Homo sapiens: one gene and its partners. The protein of the gene in region 2 purifies or fractionates together with the protein of the main gene of each other region. This does not show direct contact. Each region holds a gene or a part of one and is shown on either strand. Other genes may lie near its edges. The genes, in order: LETM1, SGK1, OLA1, MYH1, PCCA and MYH14.

Region 1 (3,500 bases), on a different chromosome or scaffold from region 2:
GCATGACCAGGTGGCAGGGCCACTGGCCTGGAGAACGTCCCACACTGTTCCATGAGCAGCTCACGCTGTCACAGGACCTGGGGACGTGGGTCTCCTGACCCTGCAGGCCCATCCTGCAGAGCAGGAAGCGTGAAGCCAAGGGCTGAACCCATGGAGGGCGGCCCAGCACTCAAACCCCCAGGGATGGTGAGGCTCCTTCTGGAACTGGCCTCACAGCCACACGCGCCCCAAGGCCCAGCCCCTGCAGCCACGTGGACAGCTCTGCCGGCTTCCACTCGCTCCTGTGTGCCCAACGGTTCAGAAATATTATTACTCTGCACTGTTACAGGAACACAGATTTGATGTTTTAATAAAAATACGATTTCTACAAAAGGTGCTTAACACGGCCCAGGACGGGCTGTCCGGTGGAGTCAGCCGTAGGACCCCTGAAGGATTTACAAAGACAGAGCCGGCTCACCAGCACACTCCTGCCAGCACCGGGACCCACTGCGAACAAAGACAGAGCCGGCTCCCCAGCACGCTCCTGCTAGCCCTGGGACCCACTGTGAGCCACTGCGGGGTGTCCTTCATTTAAAAAAAGTCTGGACTGTGACACTGCAGAAGGAGTCTGAAAGCCCAATTCCTGAATCCCTGCGTTAGAACTGAGAGTTCAGGCCGGGCGCGGTGGCTCATGCCTGTAATCCCAGCACTTTGGGAGGCTGAGGCGGGTGGATCACCTGAGGTCAGGAGTTGAAGACCAGCCTGACCAACATGATGAAACCCCATCTCTAATAAAAACTTGCCCGTAATCCCAGCACTTTGGGAGGCCGAGGTGAGTAGATCACGAAGTCAGGAGATCGAGACCATCCTGGCTAACACGGTAAAACACTGTCTCTAATAAAAATACAAAAAAATTAGCCAGGTGTGGTGGCGGGTGCTTGTAGTCCTGGCTACTCGGGAGGCTGAGGCAGGAGAATGGCGTGAACCCAGGAAGCGGAGCTGGCAGTGAGCCGAGATCACGCCATTGCACTCCAGCCTGGGAGACAGAGCAAGACTCTGTCTCAAAAAAAAAAAAAAAAATTAGCTGGGCATGGTGGCGCATGCCTGTAATCCCAATTACTCAGGAGGCTGAGGCAGAAGAATCGCTTGAACCCGGGAGGTGGAGCTTGCAGTGAGCCGAGATCGCACCACTGCACTCCAGCCTGGGTGACAGAGCGAGACTCTGTATCAAAAAAAAAAAAAAAAAAAAAAAAAAGTGAGTGCTTAGCTGGAGTGAGGAGGAAACACTGAATTCCTAAATCAGGAATTCGTTTCATTTTCACCAGGCGCAGATATCCTAGCTCCTGAAAAAGGCCAAGACCGAGGGTCTGGCCCTGGGCAGGTGTAAGAAAGGACTGTTTTAAGAAGCTTATTACACAAAGCTCATATTTCTGGATCCACCACTGCTTACATTTGCACCCAGACACCACTTTTAGGTGCAAGAAGAAAGGTCAGGACATAGAGAAAAATGCACACAGAACGATGAGGGAGAATGACGAGGGAGAATGACGAGGGAGCAAGCCTGCATCAGAGCACGGCTGATGTCACGGAAGCCACCAAAGGCACCCACCAGAGCCTTCCCCACCTGCAAAGCCCCTGCAGCACCCGGAGGGCAAGCTGGCTTTTGGAGGCCATGCGGAGTCCAGGGCAGAGGGGACAGTGGGATGGGCTGCCTGTTGCAGTGGCTGTTCACGTCAACAGTGCTCAGCCAAGGCAGTGAGGACGAGGATGAGAGCCGGGGCAGCTGACTGGGCCCGCGATGCCGCTCACAGGAGAGGCGTCTGCACACACCTGGCAACTGCAAGACTTGTTCTCAAGGGTAAGTACACTTGGACAAACGAACACCAGGCTACTTACACAGGGTGAGAGAATTCATAAATATTAGTTAAGGATCTAAAACAAACTTCTCAAATAACTGAAAGCTGAAAGCCTCTGGAAGCCAACTGTCCCTGCACAAAGGTTTACAATTGAGAAATATCTCCTGTTCCTATTTTGTCAAGTTTCTTTAATGGCTGAACAGAAAGAAGCTTCAAGTAATGGAGAAGGCATTGTCTGAGTGCAGCTGCTTTCCTGGACGCCTGTGCCGTTCCTGTCTTCCAAATCCTATGCTTGGAGGCCCCTGGAGGTACATTTTTGCCAGGAACCAACCTGACCTTAAAAAGATGAGTGTGACACAGCCGGCTGGGCAGGAGGATGGAGGTGCCACAGGACACCACCTGCCCACGCCCTGGCCAGCCTGGCCATGCTGCCGAGTGCGGGGAGGCCACCCCACCCAGAGGGCACAGGGCAAACCCTAAGCACGGGGGTATTGCCCTTGAAGCCCCAGGGGATGCCCTGTGCCGGATCCTCATGCCTCATTGACTAGCCTGCTTGCTGAAGGAGCCCAGGGGCCTGAGCCTGCAACACTGCAAGGGGTGAGAAGGGCATGCTGCTGTGGGCGCACTGGACTCAAACCTCACATTAGAAGCTACAAAGAACCCCAAATGCGCTTCAGAGCCCCACCAACCCCCAAGCCAGGCTCATCCCTGACACAGTGAATCCACTGCAGCCCCCGTGGGAAACTCTGTGCCAATTGACTGCTTAAAGAACTGGGGGAAATAGAAAGCCGAGAAAGAGCTCCGATACACAAGGGAAACCGCACGTGAGAACCAGCACTCCCAGCAGGGAGACGTCACTCTCCAGAGGCCACAGAGATGGCAGACACCTCTGTCTCCACAATGACCCACATCCAACTGAAAGTGTGCAGGAAGACAGGTCTATTGACACTGAAATCTAGAAATCAAGGTCCACAGGCGAATGGAGGCATCTTCAGCCCTGAGGAGGCCAGGCTGTGTCTCCTGACGCCCCTGAGGGTGGGCACAGCAGCCAGCTCTGTGTGGGCGGAGTCCACGTGGTCCTCATTCTCTTCCCTGGGGACAGGGCAGCACAGTCAGATGCTGAGACTGAGGCCACACACATGGGGGCGCCTTCCTGCCTTGGCCCAGCCCAGCTGCCTCTGGAGCCAGGAGGCCGTGGCAGCCACACCACAGTGTGGATCCAGACACGATTCTGTGGAGGGGTTCCGGGATTCCAGACAGACTGAATCTCCGTGGAATGATGAAAATTAAAATTTACTTGATTATGGAAGTCTCTGATTTATTCCAGCCAAAATATTAGATGAGCCACTGAGAATCACCACAAAGCAATCGCCCTCACGGCCCTTGCCAGGGTGACGGCACAGCAGGAGGACAGGTGCCCAGGCCAGTGGTTCTAGCTCTTCACCTCTGCGACCTCCTTCTCTGCCTTCTCTTTGGCCTTCTCCTTCTCCTCCACCTTCTCCTCTTTTTCCAGTGTTGCTACAATCTCAGCCACCTGGCTGGTGGAGATGTGAACATCTTCTTTGTCCACCAGCTCAATCACCTACACACGTGGGAAAGGGAGAGGCTCAGGTGGCTGCGCCCTACAGCACAGTGAGGCAGAGGCGGGGCCAGCGCCGTCAGTCG
Region 2 (3,500 bases):
AAGCTATGTACTCATCGTTTTTTTCCTGTAATTTTTTTTACAGTACAACCTAAATAAATACTGGCCCAGAAAGATTCAGAGTTCAAAGAAAATTCAGCTGCTTTCGGAAAGATCATTCTATGGGAAAGATCACATTTCTGAGTAATAAACATTATAAATACATATTCCGATTTATTTTTAATTCTCAAACTATTAACTTTCATTTTTCCCCTCTGGCATATTTTAATTTTTGTCCTACAGGGACTTGAGTCTAAATATGTTTTAACAATTTGGGGGACTTTTCTTTTTTCACCTTGCTATTTCTAGAGACTAAAATCTTTGAGCTACCAAGGTCTTTCAAACTGGCTGATGTCACTCTAACAAACTCAGAGATAGCAAGATGTTCCTTAAGCCACTGGGTTAGAACGAGAATCCTTTGTTTTCTATGGGCACAATCCTAGGAATGTTTCTTCTCTTTTTTTTGAGACAGAGTCTCTCTCTGTCACCCAGCCTGGCGTGAAGTGGTGCCCTCTCAGCTCACTGCAACCTCCACCCCCCGGGTTCAAGTGATCCTCCTGCCTCAGCCTCCTGAGTAGCTGGGATTACAGGTGCACGCCACCACACCCTGCTAATTTTTGTATTTTTAGTAGAGACAAGATTTCACCGTGTTGGCCAGGCTGGTCTCAAACTCCTGACCTCAGGTGATCCACCCGCCTCAGCCTTCCAAAGTGCTAGGATTACAGGCGTTTGCTACCGTGCCCGGCAAGCCTAGGAATATTTCACTTCATGCTTTTCTCTTTTGCCTTGCTGTGAGCTTATCCTCCAGAGACAACAGAGAGAGAGAAAGAGAGAGAGACAGGAGAGAGAAAGTGGAAGAACCACATGACCAGTCATTTCCCGAAGCAAATGGCGTTTTGGGTGAATGCCCTGACCTAGGAGGGAAAAAGAGGCCAAGGTTACCCTAATGTTACAGAAGTAGCTAAGTGAATTCTTCTCCGAAAAACGTCACAGCAGGCTCTAGAAAGCAATTAGAGTAATATTTTGGCACCTCGAACTACCAAATAGAAGATTCCTCTACTGCTCTAGTTACATCTTTGATTTTCATTTCCCTTTGTTGTAAATACTTACAATGTCATTTCAGAATGCTGCAGAGAAATAGATGTGAGAGTAAACAAACTATAATAATAATCCTTTCTCCACATGCCATGGCAGCTGCAGGAGGAGGCCAACGCAGCACCGAACTTGCCTTACTGTCTGCTTTTCCTGTCCTCCTCCTCCTGCACCTCCTTCACCTCCTCCACCTCCTTCTCCTCCACTTTCCCACATGGTCTTTTATAAATTTGCCAGCATCACTGTGCAGTTTGCCAGAGAAACCTGGCCACTTGCTGGGTAAGCCTGCTCTTAGACCAAGGACCAGGGTAGGTCACTGCTGCTGTCCTCATTTCTGGGCCAGAAGGATTCACTGAGAGTGAGGTCCAGAACCACCTGCTTTCCCATTACAGAGGATGTGGATCTCTATAGAGACACTGCGTATCCCTTCAGTTAAAGCTCTTCGAAGACTCTTTTTACCCTGCGAGCTGAACTTTCTTGAGCCCCATAGAATGGATAAAAATCTTCATCCCCAGGTTGGTGAGGAGCCAATGATTTCACGCTCAAACAAGCTGACAAGCTAGGAATCCTAGCTTTCCTTAGCAGGCAGGAAACAGCATCCCACTCATAAGTCAGGAGTCTTTTCTGCCAATGTTAGGAATGTTGATATTTACCTTTATTTTTGGACTTATTTCTAAAAAAAATTAACTAGTATGTAAAAAAAAATCACACTTTAAAAATATGCTTCTACAATATTTGCTCTAGCGAACTATCTTTAGCTTGACCTAAATTACTAATTAAACTTTTCTATTGATCCAATTCCCATTACTGTTCCTGCCTTTATGCTTTCATATTCGGAAATCTCCAACATGCATTTTGATGGCTCCACCCCCCACGTTCCTCACTCCTGCCCCCTCATTTTGGTTTTGCTTTACCTTGTTAAGCACTTACAGATCATAAAATATGGGTGAGCTCAGAATATCTCTTACTCCAGTGTTACATATGGCACCCGCATTTCAGCACCAGCCCTTTAAAAAATGGTGCAGAATTTCAAGGAACTCAGCTACACTTTCCATTCAAAATCCCTCCCAAGCACTGTAGCTAAGAGCCTATCTCAGGATTTTCTTGAGAGCTGCTGGGGAGGCAAAATATCTATCTAACGAAAATGGCTCATCATCCACATTCTGCAGTACTGAGACTAATTCCCCAGCACTGCCAAACCTAGACTGCTGAACTCCCTCATCCAAACTCTCTAAGACTTAGTGGTCAAAGTGCCAAAGGCATCCGTCTTACTCACACTCTGTGGCTCCTAAGACCATGCTGAAAAGTGAGGATAAGTAATAATTGAAAGACATTTTTAGGATTCTAGTTGGGAGGATACATAATGCAGATACTATATAGTTTTTGTTTGTTTGTTTGTTTTTTGAGATGCTGTCTCACTGTGTTATCCAGCCTGGAGTACAATGGCGTGATCTTGGCTCACTGCCACCTCCGCCTCCCAGGTTCAAGTGACTCTCCTGCCTAGGCCTCCTGAGAAGCTGGGATTACAGGTGCCCACCACCACTCCCAGCTAATTTTTGTATTTTTAGTAGAGACGGGATTTCACCATGTTGGCCAGGCTGGCCTCAAACTCCTGACCTCAGGTGATCTGCCTGCCTTGGCCTCCCAAAATGCTGGGATTAAAGGTGTGAGCCACTGTGCCCAGCCTACTATATATTACTGAAGTTAGTAATTCATATTAATGCAAAATAAAAGGAGATTAGTGAATCACTGCTACGTCTGTCTTGTTTGGCCTGACAAGAAAAGTATCATAGAAGAGAAGGTGTGTTATGGGCATTGGATCAGCAAATAAGCTGAGGTCAAGCTTCCCTAAGTACCCACCAGCTCTGAAGGGGAAGTGACAGCTTGTCTTTGAGCCAGATTTAGGTTACATTTCAGTCTTAATTTATATCTAATCCATATCTAAACATAGAGAGAAATAAAATGCATTAGATTTCTGAGCCACCAAAGCCTGTTTAAAGGAAGACGGAGGAGGAAGGAGAAGAGGGCAATGACTTAGGGGCAAGTAATAGAAGGATTTGTTCTTTTATTTTATGCATTCTTTTATTCAACAAATATGTTTTGACAAGTAGGGGATACAGTGAACAAGGTAACTGGTTTTCTGTCCTTAAAGACCTTCCAGCCAGTTGTGGTGGCTCATGCTTGTAATCCCAGCACTTTGGGAGGCCAAGGCTTGTGGATCACCTGAGGTCAGGAGTTGGAAACCAGCCTGGCCAACATGGTGAAACCCTGTCTCTACTAAAAAAAAAAATACAAAAAAATTAGCTGTGCATGGTGGTGCACACCTGTAATCCCTGCTACTCAGGAGGCTGAGGCAGGAGAATTGCTTGAACCTAGGAGCCAGAGGTTGCAGTGAGATGAGATGGTGCCAC
Region 3 (3,500 bases), on a different chromosome or scaffold from region 2:
ATGGTATCCTAGGTGAAAATGTCAGAGTCAACCTTTTCTAATTTATAGTATAAAAGCTGCCAGTTAGTGGTAAATAGTCTTACAAGCAGGAAATATTATTTTATTGGATATTATAAAGTTTCTCTCAATTGTTAAAGGAAATATTTACAATTCATCTATCAAGTTTATTACAACATAGATCTACTAAGGATTGGTAAACAGGCTTACCATTTTAAGAGTATAAAAAAAGAAGCATCTGATCTCTGAATTCTAGTAATAGAAAACATCCTCATTTTTATCTTCCTTATGAAAAATAGATATGCCAACATGATGTAGCATGTTGACAAATAATCTGAGATTTTTGTTCGTCTAATTAGTATTCCTGACAAAGTTCAATCTCAGTATTTTTGCACACCTACCTATATCTATACAGATGCCACCATCAAAAAATTAACAACTGTGTTTACTTGTAAACTGTTATTCCTTCCACTCTTTCAAAAAAACAAAATGGTTCTCATTCAACATTGAACCAATTATACCAAGATTTTCCCCCTCCTCTTCCTGGTGTTCCAACAGTTCTATTAAAGTCCTGCTGTTCGGTATGACCTTTCCAATGATACCAGTGAAAATAAAGTAAACCTGAAATAAACTTTTTTGTATTCCTTTCAACTTATGAAATAGTAAACACAAGAATCTTCTTTAAATTCTATAACATTTACTATAGTAGTCTTCAAATATTAAATTAAATTAAAGAACCTTCCTACAATGTCAGTTTAACCAGCTAATCTGTCTATATTAGAGATTGCTAGATTTCTCTAAGTAACATCTAATAAATCAAACAAAATTAATTTTGCAACAGAATTTACATTTAACAAGTCATCTACTACTCATGTATAAAACTGCTTCACTATTAGTGTCTGCAAACCAAATTATCCTTATTAGCTAAAATAAAGCACAATTTTGGACCTGCCCTCTAGTGTTGAGAAAGCAAATCAAATCCCCAAGTATCTTTAAACAACAAACAAGTAAAACCATGAAGTTTTAGAAAGAACAGCTTTTATTTAACTAACTTTCTATCTCTATTCTTGAAGTAATTATAAGCATATATATTATACTTCAGCTATTCAAATGTAATAAGTACAATTTTTCATTGGCCATGAGTGAACAAATTCTTCGAAATTATTTACAATTACTTAAACCTAATTTATTTTATTTTCAATTATAGAAAAAAACCTCCACAAAACTACTGACAATTCACACATTTTTAAAATGATCTAAAAGTATGTAAACATCTATAGCTCTTAAGTCAGTTGATAGTAACACTAAACGCTGATCATCTTATTACTTTATTTTAGACTACACTCAGTTTAAAAGATAATTATCATTCATTTTTATCATGACTAACTTCGCATCAGTGGAAACATTGTGAAATACAAAAATAAAAACAATTCTTTACCTTGACTGCATTTTCAGAACCTTCCTCTTTAAAATCTTCGTATTTCATTACTTCAGCCATAATGAATCCCTTTTCAAAATCTGTGTGAATCTTTCCTGCAGCCTGAGGAGCCTTAGTCCCTTTCTTTGAAAAGAAAGACCAGAGAAAACTAATTGCATTTAAGATGACTGATTGTAAGCACAGAGTTTCTTTTCTCTGATCTGCAGTTGGGCTCAACTAGAACTTAGTTTAATATCTGTTAAGATGTCAGGTATATAATTAGTACATTTTCAACACTGGGTAGTATCTGTGCAGCAGATTTAGCATAGATCAGTAGATATTAAAGAAGCGTGGCTTTGTTTTTCCTAACAGTCATCCACTGTTTTATTGATTTAGAAGCAGTGGTCTGGTTTTGGTGTAGGTTTCATTTCGATTTTCTATTCTTCACAGTGGAAAAAAATAGATTTTTAAGTAACTTTCAAGCTGAATTATCAAAGGTTTTAAAAAGATAAAAAGCTCTCAAAATTTCAGCTCATCTAAAGAACATATAAAAATCAATATACAAAGGGACATTTTAAAGGCATTTCCAACAAATCATATTGGAAATCTACATTCAGCAAATAATTGTGAAACTCTCAAAAAATTTCGATAATAAAATTTTTGAACATTTTGCATAATATTCCCTGCCTCTAACCATCATGAAGGAAATTCAAGTTGATATAGGGAGAGAAATGTCTTATAATTAACCCATATGTTATATTACAAGGATATATATTCCACACACACATAACCATGGAAAGAAATTTGAGAAATAACGGTGACCTAAAGGCTGCTTAATAAAGCATGTTAAAGTGATAAGGAGTCTGACACTAGAAAGCACAGTTTTTACAATAAAAGATGTATTGGGTTAATATAGCTACTCACTGATGCTTACCTGACTAAATATCTTAGCACATTAAATCATGGATACTTACAATCAGTCTTAAGATAAACCAGCTTTCACATTTTCAAGCCCAGAACATGCTATCTTTCCTACCTCCACATACTTAAGTTAGAAAGTTTTAAGGCTTTAAAATACATCTTTAAAATATATAGTAAAAATAAATCCTGGCAATTTGTTTACCAACTTGGATTTGCTTTGACATTATTTTTAAAATCTATATAAAAGGACCTTGGTTAGAAGTCAATCAAACATTTTTTTACAAAGGGGAGAGGAGATAAAAGAAAAGTAAATCTCACATTCACACAAGGCATTTAACATTATGTTAACTGCCTCCATGTTTCTATCCATATTAAATCAAAATACATGTAACAATAAATTACAGTAGTCACTGAAAACAGGAATCAAAGCACCACTAAAATTTATCGTGTAGCATATATTTAAAAAGCATAATAAAAGACTGAATAAGACACTATTTCTAAAAGTTCTGGTATTATTTTTATATTCTGTAACATACTATTTAGGATCACATATATTTCAAAATATTTTTCAATAGTAACTACTATGTTACAATATATTTAAATTTAAAAGCAAACCATTACAGTTCAGTTTCTATTGTCCTCTGGGAATAAATTAGTCATTCTCTCTGTTGTATTCAGTATACATCAATTTTTAAAATACATATCACATTTTTAAAGAAGTAAGACTGAACATATAACACTGAAAATAAACATTACTTCTATGAATTCAAATTTAAAAAGGCATGAATTATTACACGTTGAGTTTAGCTTTTTGAGCCCAACTGTGTATCTATGAAGAGCATAATGATGTCATATTGCTTTTATTGCTGAAAATGTAATCCGAGCAAAGCAAAGGAGGAAAGAACCACCCGCAACCCAAACAAACTTAGCGAATACAAAATGAAAAGCAACATCAATTTCACTGCAGACAAACCCAGTCACACAGATTAAGCAAGCACAATACTGGTGCGTCTTATCTCTGACCACAGGAGGAGGGTAGACAGATTCTACAGGATGAAGAAATTCAGACTATGTAATAGGCAGAATCAATTGTTACCTGCCTCAATCAATGCCGCTCCACTTTCACTGTTCAGCAGCTCACAAATAATTAAAGTTATCCTGGACA
Region 4 (3,500 bases), on a different chromosome or scaffold from region 2:
TGGCAGGCTTGGGCTTCTGGAAGTTATTGGATTTTCCAAGATGTTGTTCATACAGCTTGTTCTTGAAGGAGGTGTCTGTCGCCTTGGGGAACATGCACTCCTCTTCCAGGATGGAGAAGATGCCCATAGGCTGGAAGAATGAAAAGAAATAAATGCCACTTGAATTCTGTCTGCTTATAGAAATAACATTTAACATTAATAATTATCCCATCTGAGTAAATTCATCCTTTAATTCTACAGAGTTAACGAAAACTCGTTCCTTTGGTCAGAAGTCATTAACTTCACAAATATTTATTGGGTGCTGATCAGGAGCCACGTGCTGTATCAGGCTCTGGGATATGACAGAGTAAGACAGATGAAGGCTGTGCTCCTGTGGAGTTTGTGTCTTTACCCCAAAGACCTGAGAGCAATATTTCTCCAAGTGTGACTTGCGAATTAGCTGCATCAGAATCACTTGCTCAAAATGAGGATTCCGATGTTTCATCCTACACTTACCAGAAAATATTTCTAGGGGTGAGACAAGGGAAACCTGCAATTGTACCAAGTATTCTTGGTGGGTCTTTCGCACACTGGATTTTAAAAGCCTCTGCTTTAACGTACAGTAGTAGAAATTCATACTTTGAATGCAGTAATAATGACTTTAGGATGACAAAAAACAGTAAGTAAAAAATATTCTAGTCAGTGCACTTTTTGTAAGGAAAGATGACTTTAAATGTAAGACTTTGTATTGCAAACTGTGGGTAAGTGTTGTGTTCTGGACTCTATAGAAAATATTTAATCTCCTTTTACCAGAATATCTACTTCAGAGTTGGCAAAATAAGGAATTCTCCTCATGTTTTTCACAAGTAGAAATATTTAGCCATTGCCTATATCAAGATTTTATGATTTTCTTTTAAATACTGTACAGCAGTATGATCTGTGGTCTGCAAAAAGCAAGCCAACCTTCTCGATGAGCTCGATGCAGGCAGCCAGGTCCATCCCAAAGTCAATGAACGTCCACTCAATGCCTTCCTTCTTGTACTCCTCCTGCTCCAGCACGAACATGTGGTGGTTGAAAAACTGTTGCAGTTTCTCATTGGTGAAGTTGATGCACAGCTGCTCCAGGCTGTTGAACTAAATGAGTTGAAAATACAAATTAGCATTCAATTTATAATGAAATCTTCTCTTTGAAAGGGGTGTTTTTTTAGTTAGCCAAATTGCCCTCTTAGGATGGTATCGTTTTGTCCTACCTATACCTACACAATGAAGTTTTTGCTGCTGTTAGCATACTTGTTAAAATTGTCTCTTCAACACCTGTCAACAAGCTCTGAATGATGCTTTCCTATGCAATAAAAAAAAGTTGTTTGGAGCTGGAGGCCATTATTCTTAGCAAACTAACGCAGGAACAGAAAACCAAATACTGTATGTTCTCACATATAAGTGGGAGCTAAATGATGAGAACACATGGACACATAGAGGGAAACAGCACACACTGGGGCCTATTGGAGGGTGGAGAGTGGGAGGAGGGAGGGGATCAGAAAAAATAACTTATGGGTACTAGGCTTCATACGTGGGCGACACAGCTTACCTATGTCGCAAACCTTCACATGGACCCCTGAACTTAAAAGTTTTTTTTTTAAAAGTTGTTTGGTTTTTATAGTATTTGTTTTTGTTAGTCAGAGGTTTCTTAATGATTATGATTATGTTGTAAACTAGCTAAATTTGCTAGATCTGAGCCATTATGGTCTGTATGTTGTCCTTAATAATAAAAATTCAACAGCTAATATTTGGTGAACATTTACTCTACAGTAGACACTATGCTGAGTGCCTTGTATAAGTTACTGCATTTAATCCTCACAGCTACCTTTGTAGGTGGTATCATTTGCTCATTTCATGGGTGAGGAAACACTATTAGGGAGGCTAAGTAACTTGTGTAAGACCATGGTAGTAAGGGTCATGGCAGGAACCCCAACATTTTGATGCCAGAGCCAGTGTTTGTAACTACTCCTAGAACTTGAGTAGACCTGCCCTGCTTTATTATTCGGGACACCTACATAGAAACACAATTGAGGATGCCCTTGTTTAAGGGCATTATCACCATACACAAAAGTCAAAGGAATTCTATGAGGGGGATGAATCTGGCAAGCATATGCGAAGTGCCAGAAGCCAGTCACAAAGACCACATATTATCCGATTCCATTATAAGACATGTCCAGAACAGCCAAAACCAGAGACAGAAAGTAGATTAGGGGTTTCTGTGGCCTAGGGGGAGGACAAAATAGAATTTCCTGTTGGGATGATGAAAATGTTCTGAAATTGTTATGATGATAGCATGTACCTGTGAATATACTAAAAACCATTGAATTTTATACTTTAAATAGGTGAATTGTATGATATGTTAATTATATCTCGATAAAGCTGTTACTTCAAAAAAAAAAAAAGAAGCAGCTCAAAATGATTGCAAGTACCCTGTCATTAGTTCTCTTATTTTAAAAAGTGTGGATTGCTTTTTCTGTTCCTGCTTGATGACAGATTATTCCTTTCTTTCCACGTTGGCTTGGAAATGTCTGGAAGTGCTTCCGTTTCTAAAATTTCATCCAGTTTCAATCAGTCCGTACACAGATAAAAGTTTAGAATTGGGACCTCTAAATGAGACACATCCGAGATACTGCTGTCAAGTGGAGGACTGCAGTAGCCCTATTTCCTAAGCTGTGTAGCAGGTATTCTTCCTTAGGCAGACAAATTTGAGTTTATTTACGATGCCATTTCTATACTCAATACCTGGGTATTGCAGAGGTTATCCTAATAATTAAACACATTTCATTTCTCGGCAAACAGAATCTCAAAGTCTTTCTTTTAAAGACTTTGTCTTCTCCACTGCTATCTTTGATTCTATTGTTGCCCTCAGTATCTTACTGTTTACTGAGTGCTGCCTGCATGCTTGGGGACTGTGTTAAGGGCTGAAAATTCAGAAATCTTGAAACTAGCAGACAGATCTCAGAAGTGAATCTGTGATCTGGAATGTTAAGTGCTTTACCTACAGGTCCTAGTTGAATTTGCCCAATGATCAATCAGGTACAATTCTCATTATTACACAGCTAGTAATTGGCAGAGCAGGAGTTTGAATCCAGGTCTGTCTCATTCCAAAGTTCACTTCCTTTCACGGTCTTTTGGTGCTCTTTCATGTGTCAGTTAAGTTTAAAGTGCAGCTATTTTTCATAGACCCTTTCCATAAGTGACTACAGGCATGCTATATGACTGCAGCAACAAGCTTGCTTGTTGGAAACTTTTTTGGTACAATTTTTCTGCTAACTCACATCAAAGATCTCAAAGCCAGCAATGTCCAAGACCCCAATGAAGTACTGCCTGGGCTGCTTGGTGTCCAGCTGCTGGTTGATGCGGGTGACCATCCACAAGAACATCTTATCGTAGACAGCTTTGGCCAGAGCACCCACTGCATTGTACACCTTCACAGATAAAGTTTGTTGGTGTTATTAAAGACATGTCATGAAGGCCTGGGA
Region 5 (3,500 bases), on a different chromosome or scaffold from region 2:
GGAAACTGAGCCAGCCAGCCATGTGACTATATGGGGGCCTAGCATTGCAGACCAAGGAGTGCCAGGGCAAAAGCTCTGAGGGGAGATTGCATTTGGCATAATTAAGGGATGAATGTGGCTGCTGTGGTTGGAGTGAACTGAATGAGGGGGTGATCTTAGGAGATGAGGGAGGAGGAGTGGGTAGGCGGGACAGAGTCATCAGGGGCTTGTATTTGGAATTTAGTAATGAGAGTCCAGTTGGAGGCATTTAAGCACATTGAATTTATGTTTGGAAAAGACGTTTGTGACTAGTACGTAGCGAATGTCTTAGTAGGGGTGGGAGTAGGATTGGGGACTGGGGTGGGAAGAGTGGAAACAGAGAGACCCATCAGGAAGCTGTTGTAGAAGACCAAGCTAGAGATGATGGTAACTTGTGCTAGGGCACTGGAGTTGCTGAGAACTGGTCAGACTTGGAATGTATTTTGGAGCTAGAGCCAGTATCTTGCTGTGGGGTTTGAAGGCAGATACAGATGTACCTCATATCTTGGCTTTATTGACCCTGCAGATACTGCTTTTTTTTTGTTGTTTTTACAGATTGAGGGTTTGTGGCAACCCTGCTTTGAGCAACTGTATTGGTGTCATCTTTCCAATAGCACATACTTACTTGGTGTCTCTGTGAAACATTTTGATAATTTTTTCATTATTACTATGTCTGTTATGGTGATCTGTGATCAGTGATCTTCGATATTCTTATTGTAAATATTTTGGGGTGCCGTGAACCACGCCCATATAAGTTGGAGAAACATAATTGATAAATGTGTGAGTTTTGACTTCTCCAAGCAGTTATTCCCCTATGTCTCTCCCTCTCCTCAGGCTTCCCTAATTCTCTGAGATACAACAATATTGAAATTAGGCCAATTAATAATCTTCTAAGCGTTCTAGTGAAAGGAAGAGTCACACATCTCTCACTTTGAATCAAAAACTAGAAATCATTAAGCTTAGTGAGGAAGGCCTGTCAAAAGCCAAGATAGACTGAAAGTTGGGCCTCTTGTGCCAAATTGTAAATGCAAAGGAAAAGTTCTGGAAGGAAATTAGAAGTGCTACTCCAGTGAGCGCACAACTGATTAAAAAAAGTGAAACAGCTTTATTGCTGATATGGCGAAAGCTTTAGTGGTTTGGATAGAAGATCAAACCAGCCACAACATTTCCTTAAGCCATAGCCTAATCCAGCGCAAGGTCCTCGCTTCAGTTCTGCGAAGGCTGAGAGAGGTGAGGATGCTGCAGAAGAAAACTTGGAAGCAGAGGTTGGTTCATGGGGTTTAAGAAAAGAAGTGAGGCCGGGCGCAGTGGTTCACACCTGTAATCCCAGTACTTTGGGAGGCCGAGGCGAGTGGATCACAAGGTCAAGAGATTGAGACCATTCTGGCTAACATGGTGAAGGATCAGATGATTGTTAGCATTTTTGAGCAATAACTGTTTTGAACAATAATTAATTGGACCTGAACCTACAGTATCTGTAAGGTATGTACAAACAGGGAAAGGAAGGAATTAAGAGTGACTTTTGAAGGGTAGACACACAAGGTCGCTATTGTGTGATTTTGTGTTTATATGCAGTCTCCAGAATAGACTGATCCATGAAGACAGAAAGTAGATTAGTGGTTGCCCAGGGCCTGGAGGAGAGGGGATGGGAGTGACTGCGAATAGTTAAGGGTTGTCTTTTTGGGGTGATAAAAAATGTCCTGGAATCAGTAGCCATCATGGTTCCATGCCTTGTGGATATACTAAAAACCACGGAGTTGTATACTTTTTTAAAAGGGTGAATTTTATGGTATGTGAATTACATCTCAATTAAAAAATAAAAGAATGGTCCGGGTGCAGTGGCTCACACCTGTAATCCCAGCACTTTGGGAGGCCGAGGCAGGTGGATCACCTGAGGTCGGGAGTTCGAGACCAGCCTGACCAACATGAAGAAACCCCATCTCTACTAAAAATACAAAATTAGCCAGGCATGGTGGCACATGCCTGTAATCCCAGCTACTCGGGAGGCTGAGACGGGAGAATTGCTTGAACCTGGGAGGCAGAGGTTGCAGTGAGCCAAGATGGCACCACTGCACTCCAGCCTGGCGACAGAGTGAGACTCCGTCTCAAAAAACAAACAAACACAAATCTTCGAATACTTATGTTAACAAAGTAAAGCAAAGAGGCCAAGGTGGGAGGATCACTTGAGGCCAGCAGTTCAAGACCAGCCTGGGGAAAATAGTGAGAACCCCCCAGCCGCCCAGTCTCTACAAAAAATAAAAAAATTAGTGGGGCATGGTGACATGCATCCATAGTCCCAGCTATTCAGGAGGCTGAGGTGGGAGGATTGCTTGAATGCAGGAGTTCAAGGCTGCAGTGAGCTATGATCCTATCACTACACTTCAGTCTGGGCAACATAGTGAGATCCTGTCTCAAAAAAAAAAAGTACAATGAAGCTAGGTGTGGTGGCAGGGATGTGTAGTCTCAGCTACTTAGGAGGCTGAGGTGGGAAGATCATTTAAGCCTAGGAGTTAGAGGCTGCCATGGGCTATAATTGTGCCTGTGAGTAGTCACTGCAGTCCAGCCTGGGCAAACATAGTGAGACCCCCATCTCTTAAAAAAACAAAAAAAGTAAAATAAGGTGAAATTAATATATTTTACTTAATATATTCAAATATTCAAAGTATTATTTGAATATGTAAATGTAAAAATTCACTAATGAGGTCTTTTACATTTTCTGGGTACTAAGTTTTCAAAATCCAGTGTGTAGTTTACTCTTAGAGCACATCTGAATGTGGCTCGTGGCTGCCATATTGGATGGAACAGCTCTAGGGCACAGATTGTGCTACTAATCAAGTCCCACCTTGAGGTGCTGGGACTGGCCTTTTGAATGCAGTGTTAGTCAGCCCTTGGCCAGGCAGGGTCGGGGGAGCTCTCAGGCTTGATGGAGAGCTGTATAGTTGAGGAACATGGTCGAGATGAGGGTGCAGGTGTGAGCCGTTAGTTGTCAACACAGCAGTTAGAGAGGATCTGAGTGGCCACTGACAACATCTGCTACAGCGGGATGGGGAAGAATGGCCTGGCGGAAGAGTCAAGGGTGGGATGATGGAGCTCTAGAGTTGACATGTATAGTTTCCTGGTGCTTGAGCTTAGTACAGAGGCAGAGCCCAGAGAATCTTGAGTCTTGAACATCTCTCTCAAATATTAGGTGTTCAACTTGGCTTTTGGCAGACACTGAAGATTGGAATGGTCTCTAAGATCCTGAAGACTAAATAGTCTATTTGAAAGAAAAGCTGTGCTTCCAGGAAAAAGCCAGACCTAATTAAGTGTCTTCAGAGAAGGGCATGGGCTCTGTTACAATGCATGATGAAATACCGTGTCATAATACATGGATAAGACCTTCACCTGGAATTTTAGAGATGAAGCAAGATGAAGTAAACTAATGTTTACTTTGACCTTGGTGAGATCATTTTATAGCTCCATTAACCCAGTTTTGAGGATAG
Region 6 (3,209 bases), on a different chromosome or scaffold from region 2:
CCAGACAGACCTGGGATCTGATCCAGGCTCTATCTCTGTGACTCTGATGCAAAATATATCCTCTTAAAGTTTCAGTTTCTTCATCTGTGAAATGGGACTAGTGAGGAAATGCAAATATGTATTTTTTAAAAAGCAGTTGCTTATGACACAGTAACTGCTCAGTAAGTAATCAAGAACACACACTCTGGGGCTAGAGTGCTGAGGTTTGAATACTGACCCCACCTCTTACCAGCTAAATAATTTTGAGCAAGTTACTTCACCTTTCTGTACCTCAGTTTCCTCACATAAATAAGAGGGTAAATAATAGCACCTTCCTTCTACCATTCTGATAAGAATTAAACACAGTAAATGTTATGTCTTTAGCACAGTGCCTGGTACATAGAAGCTAGTCCTGGTCTAGCTTCTGGGTAGGGTTTAACTTCTTCCCTTGCCCTGGCTTCCTCAGCTCCCTACAGGGCCCTTTCTAGATGCCAGCATTTATGAATTGCAAACTCACTGATTCCAACCCTCTGCTGATGTGCCAAGTGCCAAGATGGTATCTGCATTCAGTTCCAGTCCAGCACCTGCACATTGCTTCTTGTGATGGGAGCTCATTGCCTCTGGAGACAGCCTGTGCAATTTCTCAGCCAGTGGTCACACTCTCCACTGCTCCCTAATGATGCCAGCTGCTTACCTGGTCCCGGAGCTGGTCAGCCACCCTCCGCTCCTCCTCCACCTGGAGCACCACCTCTTTAAGCCGCTTCTCAGCTCTGCGCACCAGCTTTCCAGAGAGGATGCGCTCTCTGAAGAGAGGGATGAGGAGGAGTCTCAGTAGAGGGGCTCAACCTAGGATTTTGTCCCCATAGACTCATGCAGTGGCTGTCACCTTGTTCTTGGATTGGCTTCTTCCCTCTTTCCTAACCCCTAAGTGGTTCCCACAGTTTACTGAGGCCAAACACTGACATGCAGGCTGCCTTCTCCTCGGCATCCATGTCCTTGGCTTCTACTAGGACACCTCACATACCTGTTTCCTATGATGTTGTGAGTTATAATAAGTATATGTTTGGTCCTATTCAGTTTCCAAAGAGGATCATTTACAAACTACAGTTTACTCTTTGGGCCCATTCATTTTCCCCTGAAAATCATTTACTATCTCTCACAATTGAATACATCCTTTTTGTCTCTCTCCCCTATAAAGAGGATACTTAAGCCTCAACCATCTGACCCTGTATAAAAAGTCTTATATTTTGCATGGCTCCTGTGTTCATGCACATTAATATATTTGTAGCCTTTTATTTTGTTAATCTATTTATTGTCAGTTTATTTCAGCAGACTTGAATCTTCAGAGCGGGAGGGAACACTCTTTCTGCCCTTACACCTGTCCTCTCCTGCATGGACCATCACATCTGGGGTGAAGTCCATGTGATGGGACCTCTAGCAATCGGGATTGCTTGACAGCCACCCTGGATACAACAGCCCCAGATGTGCTGAGAGGAAGGCACAGGGCTGGGGGCGAGTGGGAAGGCACTAAGCAGTGGAAAAGGATGAAGGAGAGAGACTTCTTTTTTTTTGAGACAGAGTTTCACTCTTGTTGCCCAGGCTGGAGTGCAAAGGCACGATCTCCAGCTCACCGCAACCTCTGCATCCTGGGTTCAAGCAATTGTTCCTGCCTCAGCCTCCCGAGCAGCTGGGATTACAGGCATGTGCCACCACACCTGGCTAATTTTGTATTTTTAGTAGAGACAGGGTTTCTCCATGTTGGTCAGGCTGGTCTCGAACTCCCAACCTCAGATGATCCGCCCGCCTCGGCCTCCCAAAGTGCTGGGATTACAGGCGTGAGCCACTGCGCCCGGCTGAGACTTCTTCAGCTAAGAATCATCTGGTCATTCTTTGCTCCCAGGGTGACTTTATTATTCTTCTGAGAAAGGGCCTTGCTCTGTTGCCCAGACAGGAGTGCAATGGTGTGATCATGGCTCACTGCAGCCTCAATGTCCTGGGCTCAAGCGATCCTCCCACCTCAGTGTCCCGAGTAGCTAGGACTACAGGTGTGTGCCATCATGCTGGGCTAATTTTTAATTTTTATTTTTGTAGAGATGGGGTCTCGCCATGTTGCCCAGGCTGGTCTTGAACTCCTGGGTTCAAGTGATCCTCCTGCCTCAGCCTCCCAAAGTGTGGGGATTACAGGCATGAGCCACTGCACCTGGTGCAGGGTGACTTTAAGCAACTCATCTACTCCCTCGGAACCTCAGTTTCCTCATTTGTATAATGGAGCAGGGGTCCCCATAGACCTCAAGCTACAGTTCCCATAAGCCCTGGGGCCCCTGGGTGACCCTGTGGACTGAGAACCACTTGTCTCATGCACCTCTGGGGCCGTTTCCTTCTGCCTGTCCCTGAGGCCTTTCACTCTCATCAAGTTCCACAACGAATTTAGCATCTTCCTCCAAAAAGCCAATATTCCCTCAGTCACCAGGCCTTAGCTCCAAACAGTGTCTTCTTCCCCTGCCACCACCCATAGCCTCCGCTTCATTCCTTCTGCCCCCTGCTTTCTCTTCTTCATCCTCTCTTGTTCATCTTCACAGCCCCAGCCCCAGCTCAGGCCTCATCTTGTTCTGCTTGGACCATCATTCCAGACTCCTTCCAAACCTCCCAGCTTCCAGTCTCCCTCCTCTGATCCATTCCCACCTTAGCCCCAGAGAGATCTTTCTATACCTAGAGCTGGCCGTGTCCCTCCCCAGCCCACAGCCTTCCCATGGCTCCCCATTGCCCCCAGGGCTCCCCACTGCCCACAGAACAGAGTTCCGTGGCCCAGTATTCAAGGCTCTGTGTGCTTCAAGCCTCATTTACCTCCCTGTCTCCCTGATCCCTCTCCTGGGTCCCAGACTCTCAGAACCAACCACACTCCTCCTCCAAATGCCCTGATGTCTCCCAGACTTTCCCACAAAGCTGCCAACTGACTTGGGACTCTAAGCCCTGGAAATCCCATTCTTGTCAGCTCCAGCTCAAGTGCCTCCTCCTCTAGATACCCTTCCCAAACCACTACATCTCAGGGTATTCCAGCTTCTTCTTCATCTGTGTCCCTTCAACCCTTCTAGTTCATAGGCCTTCATTGCCATGTCCAGCTCATGAGTCTTTCACCTTGGGGAATCCCACCAGACATGGTATTAGACATACCATGGAGGTAATTAGACATACTTCCATGGTACGTCTAATTTTTTCAGTGACCAGCACAT

What was found.
Region 1: the proteins of SGK1 (region 2) and LETM1 purify together in Homo sapiens (co-immunoprecipitation; one large-scale study listed by IntAct). This does not show direct contact.
Region 3: the proteins of SGK1 (region 2) and OLA1 purify together in Homo sapiens (co-immunoprecipitation; one large-scale study listed by IntAct). This does not show direct contact.
Region 4: the proteins of SGK1 (region 2) and MYH1 purify together in Homo sapiens (co-immunoprecipitation; one large-scale study listed by IntAct). This does not show direct contact.
Region 5: the proteins of SGK1 (region 2) and PCCA purify together in Homo sapiens (affinity purification with mass spectrometry, with the first as the bait; one large-scale study listed by BioGRID). This does not show direct contact.
Region 6: the proteins of SGK1 (region 2) and MYH14 purify together in Homo sapiens (affinity purification with mass spectrometry, with the first as the bait; one large-scale study listed by BioGRID). This does not show direct contact.

What each region holds. Positions count from the first base shown.
Region 1 is NC_000004.12:1,811,157-1,814,656, forward strand, and holds the end of LETM1 (mitochondrial proton/calcium exchanger protein precursor), read right to left. Parts: intron 3,418-3,500; coding exon 3,268-3,417; 3' UTR 323-3,267; downstream 1-322. UniProt on the Homo sapiens protein: Plays an important role in maintenance of mitochondrial morphology and in mediating either calcium or potassium/proton antiport. Mediates proton-dependent calcium efflux from mitochondrion.
Region 2 is NC_000006.12:134,308,113-134,311,612, forward strand, and holds part of SGK1 (serine/threonine-protein kinase Sgk1), read right to left. Parts: intron 1-3,500. UniProt on the Homo sapiens protein: Serine/threonine-protein kinase which is involved in the regulation of a wide variety of ion channels, membrane transporters, cellular enzymes, transcription factors, neuronal excitability, cell growth, proliferation, survival, migration and apoptosis.
Region 3 is NC_000002.12:174,077,533-174,081,032, forward strand, and holds part of OLA1 (obg-like ATPase 1), read right to left. Parts: intron 1,559-3,500; coding exon 1,436-1,558; intron 1-1,435. UniProt on the Homo sapiens protein: Hydrolyzes ATP, and can also hydrolyze GTP with lower efficiency. Has lower affinity for GTP.
Region 4 is NC_000017.11:10,508,543-10,512,042, forward strand, and holds part of MYH1 (myosin-1), read right to left. Parts: intron 3,447-3,500; coding exon 3,297-3,446; intron 1,114-3,296; coding exon 943-1,113; intron 131-942; coding exon 1-130. UniProt on the Homo sapiens protein: Required for normal hearing. It plays a role in cochlear amplification of auditory stimuli, likely through the positive regulation of prestin (SLC26A5) activity and outer hair cell (OHC) electromotility.
Region 5 is NC_000013.11:100,095,593-100,099,092, forward strand, and holds part of PCCA (propionyl-CoA carboxylase alpha chain, mitochondrial isoform a precursor), read left to right. Parts: intron 1-3,500. UniProt on the Homo sapiens protein: This is one of the 2 subunits of the biotin-dependent propionyl-CoA carboxylase (PCC), a mitochondrial enzyme involved in the catabolism of odd chain fatty acids, branched-chain amino acids isoleucine, threonine, methionine, and valine and other metabolites.
Region 6 is NC_000019.10:50,304,622-50,307,830, reverse strand, and holds part of MYH14 (myosin-14), read right to left. Parts: intron 783-3,209; coding exon 674-782; intron 1-673. UniProt on the Homo sapiens protein: Cellular myosin that appears to play a role in cytokinesis, cell shape, and specialized functions such as secretion and capping.